Homo sapiens: one gene and its partner. The protein of the gene in region 2 purifies or fractionates together with the protein of the main gene of each other region. This does not show direct contact. Each region holds a gene or a part of one and is shown on either strand. Other genes may lie near its edges.

The links. The genes of interacting proteins can lie anywhere in the genome.
Region 1: the proteins of TSPAN1 (region 2) and ALG14 purify together in Homo sapiens (affinity purification with mass spectrometry; one large-scale study listed by BioGRID and IntAct). This does not show direct contact.

What each region holds. Positions count from the first base shown.
Region 1 is NC_000001.11:94,978,462-94,983,342, reverse strand, and holds part of ALG14 (UDP-N-acetylglucosamine transferase subunit ALG14), read left to right. Parts: intron 1-36; coding exon 37-267; 3' UTR 268-4,881. UniProt on the Homo sapiens protein: Part of the UDP-N-acetylglucosamine transferase complex that operates in the biosynthetic pathway of dolichol-linked oligosaccharides, the glycan precursors employed in protein asparagine (N)-glycosylation.
Region 2 is NC_000001.11:46,177,138-46,182,018, reverse strand, and holds part of TSPAN1 (tetraspanin-1), read right to left. Parts: intron 4,361-4,881; exon of another isoform or gene 4,198-4,360; intron 2,594-4,197; exon of another isoform or gene 2,087-2,593; intron 1,494-2,086; 5' UTR 1,361-1,493; intron 920-1,360; 5' UTR 912-919; coding exon 855-911; intron 1-854. UniProt on the Homo sapiens protein: Structural component of specialized membrane microdomains known as tetraspanin-enriched microdomains (TERMs), which act as platforms for receptor clustering and signaling.

The sequences.
Region 1 (4,881 bases), about 49 Mb from region 2:
CTGTATTTTCATTTGACCTTCAACTTTTTCTTTCAGGTGTTGTGTAACGGACCAGGAACATGTGTTCCTATCTGTGTATCTGCCCTTCTCCTTGGGATACTAGGAATAAAGAAAGTGATCATTGTCTACGTTGAAAGCATCTGCCGTGTAGAAACGTTATCCATGTCCGGAAAGATTCTGTTTCATCTCTCAGATTACTTCATTGTTCAGTGGCCGGCTCTGAAAGAAAAGTATCCCAAATCGGTGTACCTTGGGCGAATTGTTTGACAAATGGCAACTGACTTCTTTAGAATTTTGCAGTTAACAGTAGTATGTACTCAAATTGGGGGGAAAAAAACCCTACATGTTTCTTGTAAAGGCGTCTGACAGTCCTGAGAATTATTGATGGTAAGGAATAAAAAATGTACAGATGACTCAGTGAAGAAACTGAGGCTTCTCTTATGAAACAAACATTGATAAACGTAACTACTAAATGTTTATGCCTCTGTAAACCAAATTTCTTTTCTAGATAAAAATATGTATTACTACCTGCAAATTTTCTTCTGGCTGTTTTAGTAGTATTTTTTTTACAGAACTAAATATAGAGTTTGTATGATTAGTAATATTTCCTGTCCTACAGCTTTTTTTTTTTTTTTTTTTTTTTGTAAAGTATTCTGCATTGTAAAAGAAGAGAGAAAAAAAGTATTTCTGAGTTTTGGTTCAGATACAAAAGGCTTTATTTCCTGTATGGAAACAGTGATGTCCCCAGTGAATCCTTTCAGCATAAAGGAAGCAGTTATATTAAATTGGCTTCATGACAATTTGCACTCCACAAGCCTCCAGAACCTTGAGCATAAACCAGTATCATTTTTTGTACTTCAGTCTTGCTTTTTGAGTAGTTGGCCTTAATACAGAGTATCTTTTAAAATCTCTTGTTTAGGCCGGCATGACGGCTCACACCTGTAATCCCAGCACCTTGGGAGGCTAAGGCGGGTGGATCACTGGAGGTCAGGAGTTTGACACCAGCCTGACCAACATGGTGAAACCTTGTCTCTACTAAAAATACAAAAATTAGTCAGGCGTGGTGGCACATGCCTGTAATCCCAGCTACTCGGGAGGCTGAGGCAGGAGAATCGCTTGAACCCGGGAGGCAGAGGCTGCAGTGAGCCGAGATTGCACCATTGCACTCCATCCAGCCTGGGTGACAAGAGTGAAACTTCGTCTCAAAAAAAAAAAAAAAAAACAAAACTCAATGATGTAGGGACTGTTATTATTCCCATTTTACAGATGACTTGTCCAAGATCACATGAGTAGTAAGTAGCAAAGCCAGAATTCAAGTTCAGGTAAACCTGACTTCTTAGTGGGGCCAGTTTCACGGGTGTGTGGCCTGTGCAGTCACACAGAGTTCTGCACTGAAGAGGGCCTCCACTTGGTTTAATGTTCTGCTGTGACTCTCTTGAACTTCTGAATATTTTTTTAAACAATGAACTTATATTTTAGACCCTCTGAATTCTTTCGCTGGTCCTGCTTGAGACTGTGTTTCTAGTGGTGCCATGTCTACTGGAATAGAAGTACAATAGTTAGTGCAGTGCCTGGCCCAGGAGCTCCTCAAAAACAGGAATTCCATTTCCTTCCCTCTAACCTCTGCTTCTTTAACAAAGCAGCCAAAAAAAAAAAAAACAAAACAAAATAAAAAACAGAAAAGAGAAGATTCTCTCCTGTAGTATATATAGGTTTTTTCCTCTTAAATCTTTTGCTTTATAAGTATGATATAAATCTAATAAATAGTGATTAGTGAAGTGATTGAATTTTTGTGAAAAGAGACATGATTATCCACGATCATGTAAGATTAAAATCCTGAGGCTGATCCAGCCTTTTTTCTTTTTTTTTTTTTTAAAAAAAAAAAGCAAAAAAAACAAAAAAACTGTCTTCTCTGAATCATGTAACAGGCGCATCTGTCAGCCGGACATCTTCCTAGGTTTTTGGCTGGAGAAATGTGTAGCCGAAGGTGTCTCAGAATGGTGAGAACACTTTGCTGTCTGGATTTAGTGGGCCTGGGGCAGCCAAATGATAGTTCATTGTGCTTTGATTTTAATCCTCAAATCTCAGTCACTGGTTGCTTCCCTGGAGTATCAGAGCGTATTAGTATCATACAACCAGGGGCTGAGGTGAAATAAGCCTTGACTGTTCTAGAAAGAAAGTGATTTTTTCAGGGACAACAGCATCTGCATTTTATTGCTGTTTAAGGCTTTCTCTGCTCTGTACTTTGTTCCCTGAGTGGCACTAGGTAAATGAATGGTAAGGGAAAGTGAACTGCGTTTAGTGAATGCCTCTCTGTGCTGTGGGGCAGCTTCCCTGGGCCCCCACAGGTAATCCTGCTGCAGAGGCTTCTGTCAGGTCAGAGCTTAACAAAGATCAGACCAGAGAGAATTGTAGAAAAGATGCTATAATTTTTTCCAGAAACATATGTCCCAGATGTTTTGCAGAGCCTTAACTTAAGACAGTGGTTAGCCTGGAATGTCAGAGAAAGAATGTGTATGTGTTATATCACCAAAAGTTTAGAAATGTTATATCTTTCATAGGTTCAGGCTGCTGTGTACTCATTCAGAGCCAGGCTGAGACATGTGTTATTGCATCTTCCTGATCATTCAGATTACTCTGGTAAACAAGTGCATGCTCTGCTGTGTGTTACTGTTATGGCTAATTTGAGTCCTCAAGGTCCCATTAGCAGAGGGGGCTGGTGGCACAATTTCCCTGCTGTGCATTTCTGTGACATTCAGAAAGATAGTGCGCCAGTCCCAACTCAAACTGAAGAAGATGAGTAGCTAGCTTGTCCCTTCCAGTTTCTCTTAGAACACTCTGAATGCAACTTTTACTGTAGGAGACTGTTCATGAAAAAATTAATTGAATCAGTCTTCAAATGAGAGGCAGGGAAACCACACATCCTGCCCACACCTACTTCCCTGGAAGATTTCTATCTACAGTCCAGCTATCCTAAAAGGTCTCAGTAGCTTGCCAGGTCAGAATGTCTAACTGTTTCAAAAAGGATGCCCAAAAATCATGACAGGAAACTTTAGCCTGGAACGAAGAGTGCTATGAAACCGTGTCAACAAGAGGAGTGGTGACAATTGTGAGTTGAATAGCAAGATGTCCTTGCTAGGAAGGAGATGACCCAAGCTTCCCCTTATAAAAGCAACTTGGAACACATCATTCTACCTTTCAAAGATACATGGTAAGTTAAAATTGAGAAACGTACCCCTTTACTATACAGTTCCTTGGGTTGAATGAGTGCTTTTTTTTTTTTCTGAAAAGCCCCATCCCCCAAAAGGCATTTGATAGCAATGTATTAAGCACCTTTTACCAACAATAAGAACATCATTGTAAGTGTTAAAGAAAATTGTCCTTCTCCCTACAGGTCAGCGTTTGAGCCTCACGGGGTTTCTTCCCATGACTTCAGCCCTGGCGCACAATGAGCAGACACCCAAATCTTGTCCGCCTTCAACATTCTTTTGTTAGGGCCCATCCCTCTAGCACTCTAAAAACAAATCATCTACAACTGTGTTCCTGCTGCCCACTCATTTTAAACATGAATTTGACATAGCTCCTCCTTTTCGCACTGGAGTAGTTAACTAATGCTAGCCCACTAGCTTCTATCATGTCCCTCAAGCAACAAACTTTGGGATCATTTTTGCTTTTTCACTCTTTCTTTACCCAATTATAATTGGTTGCCTTTTTTGTTTCATTATCCCCAGAATTTTCTCGTCTTCCTCTTCTCTCCTTGAAATTACTTTTACTGTTCCTCTCCTTTGTCATCACCTATTGATTCTGCCTTTGACTTAGTTCATATCTACCCTTTCCTTTTCAGTCCCATAGTTACAACCTAAGCCAGCTCTTCAACAAAAATTTCTTGCTTGATGAGCAAGTTTTATTGAGGAACTGAGGAAACACCTGTGGAAGGAACAAATGAATGATTTTGTTAATTACTTATGTTTGTCTTCAGAGACTTCCCCTCATGCTAGTTCTGTATACTTGTTTCACTTTTTTCTTTCTTTTTTTTTTTTTTTTTTTTTTTTCGAGACAGTCTCGCTCCATCGCCCAGGCTGGAGTGCAGTGGTGCAATCTCACCTTACTGGCTCACTGTAACCTCTGCCTCCTGGCTTCAAGCGATTCTTGTGCCTCAGCCTCCCGAGTAGCTGGGATTACAGGCATGCACCACCACACCTGGCTAATTTTTGTATTTTTAGTAGAGACAGGGTTTTACCATGTTGGCCAGGCTGATCTTGAACTCCCAACCTCAGGTGATCCACCCATCTTGGCCTCCCAAAGTGCTGGAATTACAGGTGTAAGCCACACGTCCGGCCCTTGTTCCACTTTTTATAATATTTACACCACAGAGAGGTTAAGTAATTTATTAAAGATTATAGAACTAGAAAGTGACAAAGCTCAGATTTGAACCAAGGCATTCTAGCTCCAGCCAGGCTTACCTTAATAGCTACGTTAGGTGTTTTTTTTTTTTTTTAAAGAAAAAAGAAAAAATGTCCTCAAAAGGAAATAAATGGGGTAACAGGGTACTATGACGGAGTAGAAGGTAGTTGGTGTTCTAGATAGGGAAATCAGGAAAGGCCTTTCTAAGAAAGTGGTATTTTACCTGAGTTCCAAAGGATAATGCCTTAAATATTTGTCCTCCTTCTACTTCACTCCCAACTTAGATTTTGCCCCACCCACAAAGTCTTTGTCTTCATTTAGCTTGAGCAAATTCTCTAAATAACTCTGTGACATAGCCACCCATACCAAAGGTTAGTGCTGAGTTATATACCATCGAATTGCAGTCCTTGTTCTTAGAAACACCTGTGGAAGGAATAATGAATGCTATTGCTGATTATTTATGTTTGTCTTCAGGGA
Region 2 (4,881 bases):
GCTTTGTCCTTTGTCCACTTTGTCCGTTTCTCCCTATCTCCACCACCATCTCCAGGATTTACGCCTCATGGCTCAGCTTCTCAAACATGCCCTATGCAATCTGTTTCTGGTTTTCTGAACGATATCAAGTTTCACTACTTCTGGCCCTTTATGCATGCTTTATAACTCCCCCACCAAGTGCAATTTCCCAGCTTCAGCTATTTCCTCCAGGAAGTATTCTCCAACCAGGCTGAGTTCAGGCTCCCATAACCTCCGTCCTAAGCCCAAACACACTGTGTTGTTATTATCTGCCTATCTGGCTTATCGGAGCTGAGATCCTTCAGGGCAGAGAAAGGCTTTGCTTACCTGCCACCCCAGCACCCATCATGGTATCCTAGACAATGAATGTTTGTCGAATGAATAAGGACTGTTGCTCTGATGAGAGGTAGGCCCTCCCTCCTTTCAGCTCCCCGTCATACAGAAGAATTTCCTCTGTACTGAATTTCCTTCTGTGGTAGGTAAACTTGGGTGGAGCCCTTCTATTTTCTGGGCCCCCAGTGCCTATAAAGGGTGGAGAATCATTCCTGGTAGCTTACTCTGCCCTGCCTGAAGCCTAGGCTAAAGCTTTGTAGGAGAGAGGGGGTGCCCCTAGCTTCTCCATCCCCTTTTTCACACACGCACCTGTATGGCAGCCTGGCTGCTGCTGGGACTAGGAATCAGCAGCATTTGGGGAGACCTTTGCATCCCACTCATAAGGGGACACATGCAGGACGAAGCCTGGGCATAGCAGTCTCCCATTCCCCAGCTTAGTCTCTACTCAGCTTGTGACCTGCTCCTATAGGGAGCCCCAAAGAGTCCACAATGTCCGTACTTACAAAGATGAGCAAATTGAAGAGGATCATCATGGTCTTAATGAAGCTGAAGCACTGCATGGTGGCTCCTGGGAGGTAGACATGTGCAAGTTAGGGCCTTGTTTCCCCTGGGCCCACCTGGGCTGGCCCTGGCTTCAGATATTCAGCCAGATATGCCAGACCCCAGGATCCTGAACCCATATCTCACCAAGCTTCTCCTGTACCTGGTCTGACACAGACCTTTTCCCAGTTTCTATCCTAACACCCTTACCCCTCTATACTACCCAGGACCTCCACCAGCACCTGACACTCTGAGATCCTAACACCCCAGGTTCCTCCACCTGCACACCCAGCCTGACTCCCACACTGCAGGTCACTCCATGCTCTTTCCTAGCACCTGTATATCCTGTGCTCCCCCCCACACTAACCCCAGACCCTCCCAGAACCCTCACTAGAGCCCCTCCAGCTCCCCAGACCTGTTTCCAGATCGATATCACTTCACAGGATAATCTGTATCCCTATCCCATTACCTGTTCAGGGCTCTTGGCAGTGAGTTCTGAAAGAGGGAACTGCTGAGGCTCCACAAAGGACAAAACAGCTCCCGGGTGTTGCCACTGAGTGGGCAGGCAGAGGGACGCCTGGCTCTCACACACCACTGCTCACCTGCAGGCAGGGTAGGCGCTTTAAAGCCTCCTTCTGCCCGCCTGCTGGCCCCACCCGTGGCCAGTTAGCCTCTCCTTGACCCTGCTGCCCCCTGCTGCCTGGAGACCGATCCCCACAACCACTGCCTCAGCAGGCCTCCACCTGGCAACACCAGCCCTGGGCAACGCCCCTCCTGATCTCAAGAAGAAGCAGCCCAGGGGTGGGGCAAGTGGCTTCCCAGAATGTCTGCGTGCCCTCCACCACAACAGTGTAATGTGCTTCTTACCCTGCATCTGCTGATACACTCATACATACCCTCTGTGCTCATGCTCACATGCACATGCATCTGCTCATGCTGCCATCCATATGTTCATACAGCAAGCACCCAGTTACATACATAAACATGTGCTAGTGTTCCTGAATGCATGTGTGTGTGTGCGTCCGTGCGCACACACGCACACTAAATTCTTTGTGGACTGACTCCCAGCAACTAACAAACAACAGAATAATATCTGATGTACGTACTTAAGTATCTCTTTCACTCACACACACACACAAACACACACACACACACACACACACTCCCTCTTTCTCTTTCTCTGTCTCTCACTCACTTTCAAGGAAATGACTGAGATTTGGCAGCTTCCGCTCTCTCCTGCGAGTAGCAAATAGTTCCTAATCCTCTTCCCTCCATGAAACCTCACATTCCCCATTTTTCCCCTCCCTTCATCTTTCCATCTCCTCTCCTTCCCCATCTTTTTCTTTTTCTCCTTCCCAGTCTTCTCTTAGCGCTCTGTGTACACCCCTTCTCTTTCTGCCAGTAGGTGGCACCATGGTCTCATGAAGGAGCCACCCCCAGTTCCAAGGCTCTGTGATCCCATCTTTGTTACTCCTAGTGGGGCTGCCTGACCGCTTCCTGCTCCAGCACGCCTGATGTAGAGGTGCGGGGGAAAAGTCCTGGCTTCTGGGTCATTCAGACCAGGTGCTGGAATCCTGGCTCTGTCGCTTATGAACTGTGTGACCCTGGGGACTTTTCTTAGACTTGGTTTTAAACTTCTCTTTCCTGGTCTTCTGTGTAACAGAATAGTTCTGGGCTTTTCAAATGAGATTTTCTTCCTGCTCTAGAAGGAAGGGACAGTAGGGAATGAGCACAGAGCAAGAAGGTCAAAGTCGAGAGAGTCACAGGCAGTGGGGCTATGAGATGGAGGAAGTTGATTTTTTTTTTTTTTTTTCTGAGACAGGGTCTTGCTCTGTTGCCCAGGTTGGAGTGTAGTGGCAACATCACAGCTCACTGCAGCCTTGACCTCCTGAGCTCAAATGATCCTCAGCCTCCCAAGTAGCTGGGACCACAGGTATTTGCCGGCACTCAAGCAAATTTTTTTTTTTTAAACAGATGAGGTCTTGCTATGCTATCCAGGCTGGTCTTGAACTGGGCTCAAGTAATCCTCTGCCTCAGCCTCCCAAAGTGATGGGATTACAGGCATCAGCCACTGTGCCTAGCTGAGGAAGTGGATTTCTAAGTTTGTTTTGTTTTTATAGTGAAAGGAGGCAGCTGAAGAGACAGAAGAGAGAGGGGCTAATAGTATTACAGACTACACTAATAATACTGATCTTATTTTAAATGTCTTGCATATATTAAGGCTTTTTTTCCTCTTCACAACCATCCCATGAGATAGACTTTCTGATCTCCATTTTTAAATATGGGGAAATAGAAGCACCAAAGGGTCAGGTACTTGCCATGATCACAAAGCCTGTAAGTGGCAGAGCCAGGATTCAATCCCAGTTAGTCTGGCACCAGAGTCTACATCTTAACCACCAAGCAGACTGTCTACACTGATGGAATCTCTAAAGAGGCAGACAAGGCTGGCTTCCATAAAGAGCAAGGGAAGAGGCCTTGGTCTGACCTGAGGAAGAGGAGGAGCAGGGGCAGGTCGGTTTATAGTTACAGTTGCTAGAAGTTGGTGGAAGCAAGGTCATATTTTAAGACTGAGGATGGCAAGAGTAGAGGCTGGAGGAGGGGATGGGGGAAAGATGAGGTTTGTGAGGGTGGTACTAAGGGTGCCACAGAGTCCTCCACAAACAGAAAGGAGGATGAAGTTGGGAAGGGGGCATTTGAGGAGCAGAGTAAGGGGGAAAGGAAGAAGGGACTGAGGAGTGGAAGGAGAAGGAGAAGGTCTATTTTTTTTTTTTTTGACAGAATCTCACTCTGTTGCCCAGGCTGGAATGCAGTGGCGCAATCTTGGCTCACTGCAACCTCCGCCTCCCAGTTTCAAGCGATTCTCCTGCCTCAGCCTCCTGAGTAGCTGGTATTATAGGTGCACACCACCACACCCAGCTAATTTTTGTATTTTTAGTAGAGACAGGGTTTCACCATGTTGACCAGGCTGCTCTCGAGCTCCTGACCTCAAGTCATCCACCCACCTCGGGCTCCCAAAGTGCTGGGATTACAGGCGTGAGCCACCGCACCTGGAACCTTTCTGTTTCATTCTCAGGAAGAATTGGGACCAGATTACATTCATCTATGGCCCTGGTGCTTGGCACATAAGAAGTTGTCAGTGAACATTTCCTGAGTGAATGAGTGCAGAATAATGAGAGTTAAGTGCTCTGGGTTTTGGATCTTGATCATCATGGATTTGCTTCCTGCCTGCCTCTAATTGTGTGACTTCACCTCACTGAGCCCCAGTTTCCTTATACAGTGGATCCTCCTTATTCACAGATTCCATACCTGTGAATTTGCCTGCTTACTGAAATTTATTTGTAATTCCCAAACCAGTACTTGTGGTACTTTTGCAGTCATTCATGGACATGAGCAGAAAGGCAAAAAATTTCAGCCGTCCAACACACGTATTTCCAGCTGAGGTCTGTTGAGCAAGAGGACTCTCTGTCTTCTTATTTCAGTTTTCATAGAGTAAACAAATGTGCTTTTTGGTGGTCTATTTAGTGACGCATATTCTCACATTTTTTGGTGTTTTTTGCTGGTGATTTTACTGTCTAAAATGGTCCCCAGTTGTAGTGCTGAAGTGCTCTCTAGTCTTTCTAAGTGCAAGAAGGCTGTGATGTGCCTTATAGGGGAAATATGTGCTTTAGATAAGTTTCATTCAGGCACAAGTTATAATGCTGTTGGCTGTGAGTTCAATGTCAATGACTCAAATATAGATAGATAGTTAGATAGATAGATAGATAGATAGATAGATATATTTTTTTTTTTTTTGAGACAGAGTTTCACTCTTGTTGCCCAGGCTGGAGTGCAATGGTGCAATCTGGGCTCACTGCAATCTCCACCTCCTGGGTTCAAGCTATTCTCCTGTCTCAGCCTCCTGAGTAGCTGGGACTACAGGCACCCACCACCACACCCAGCTAATTTTTGTATTTTTAGTAGAGATGGGGTTTTGCCATGTTAACCAGGCTA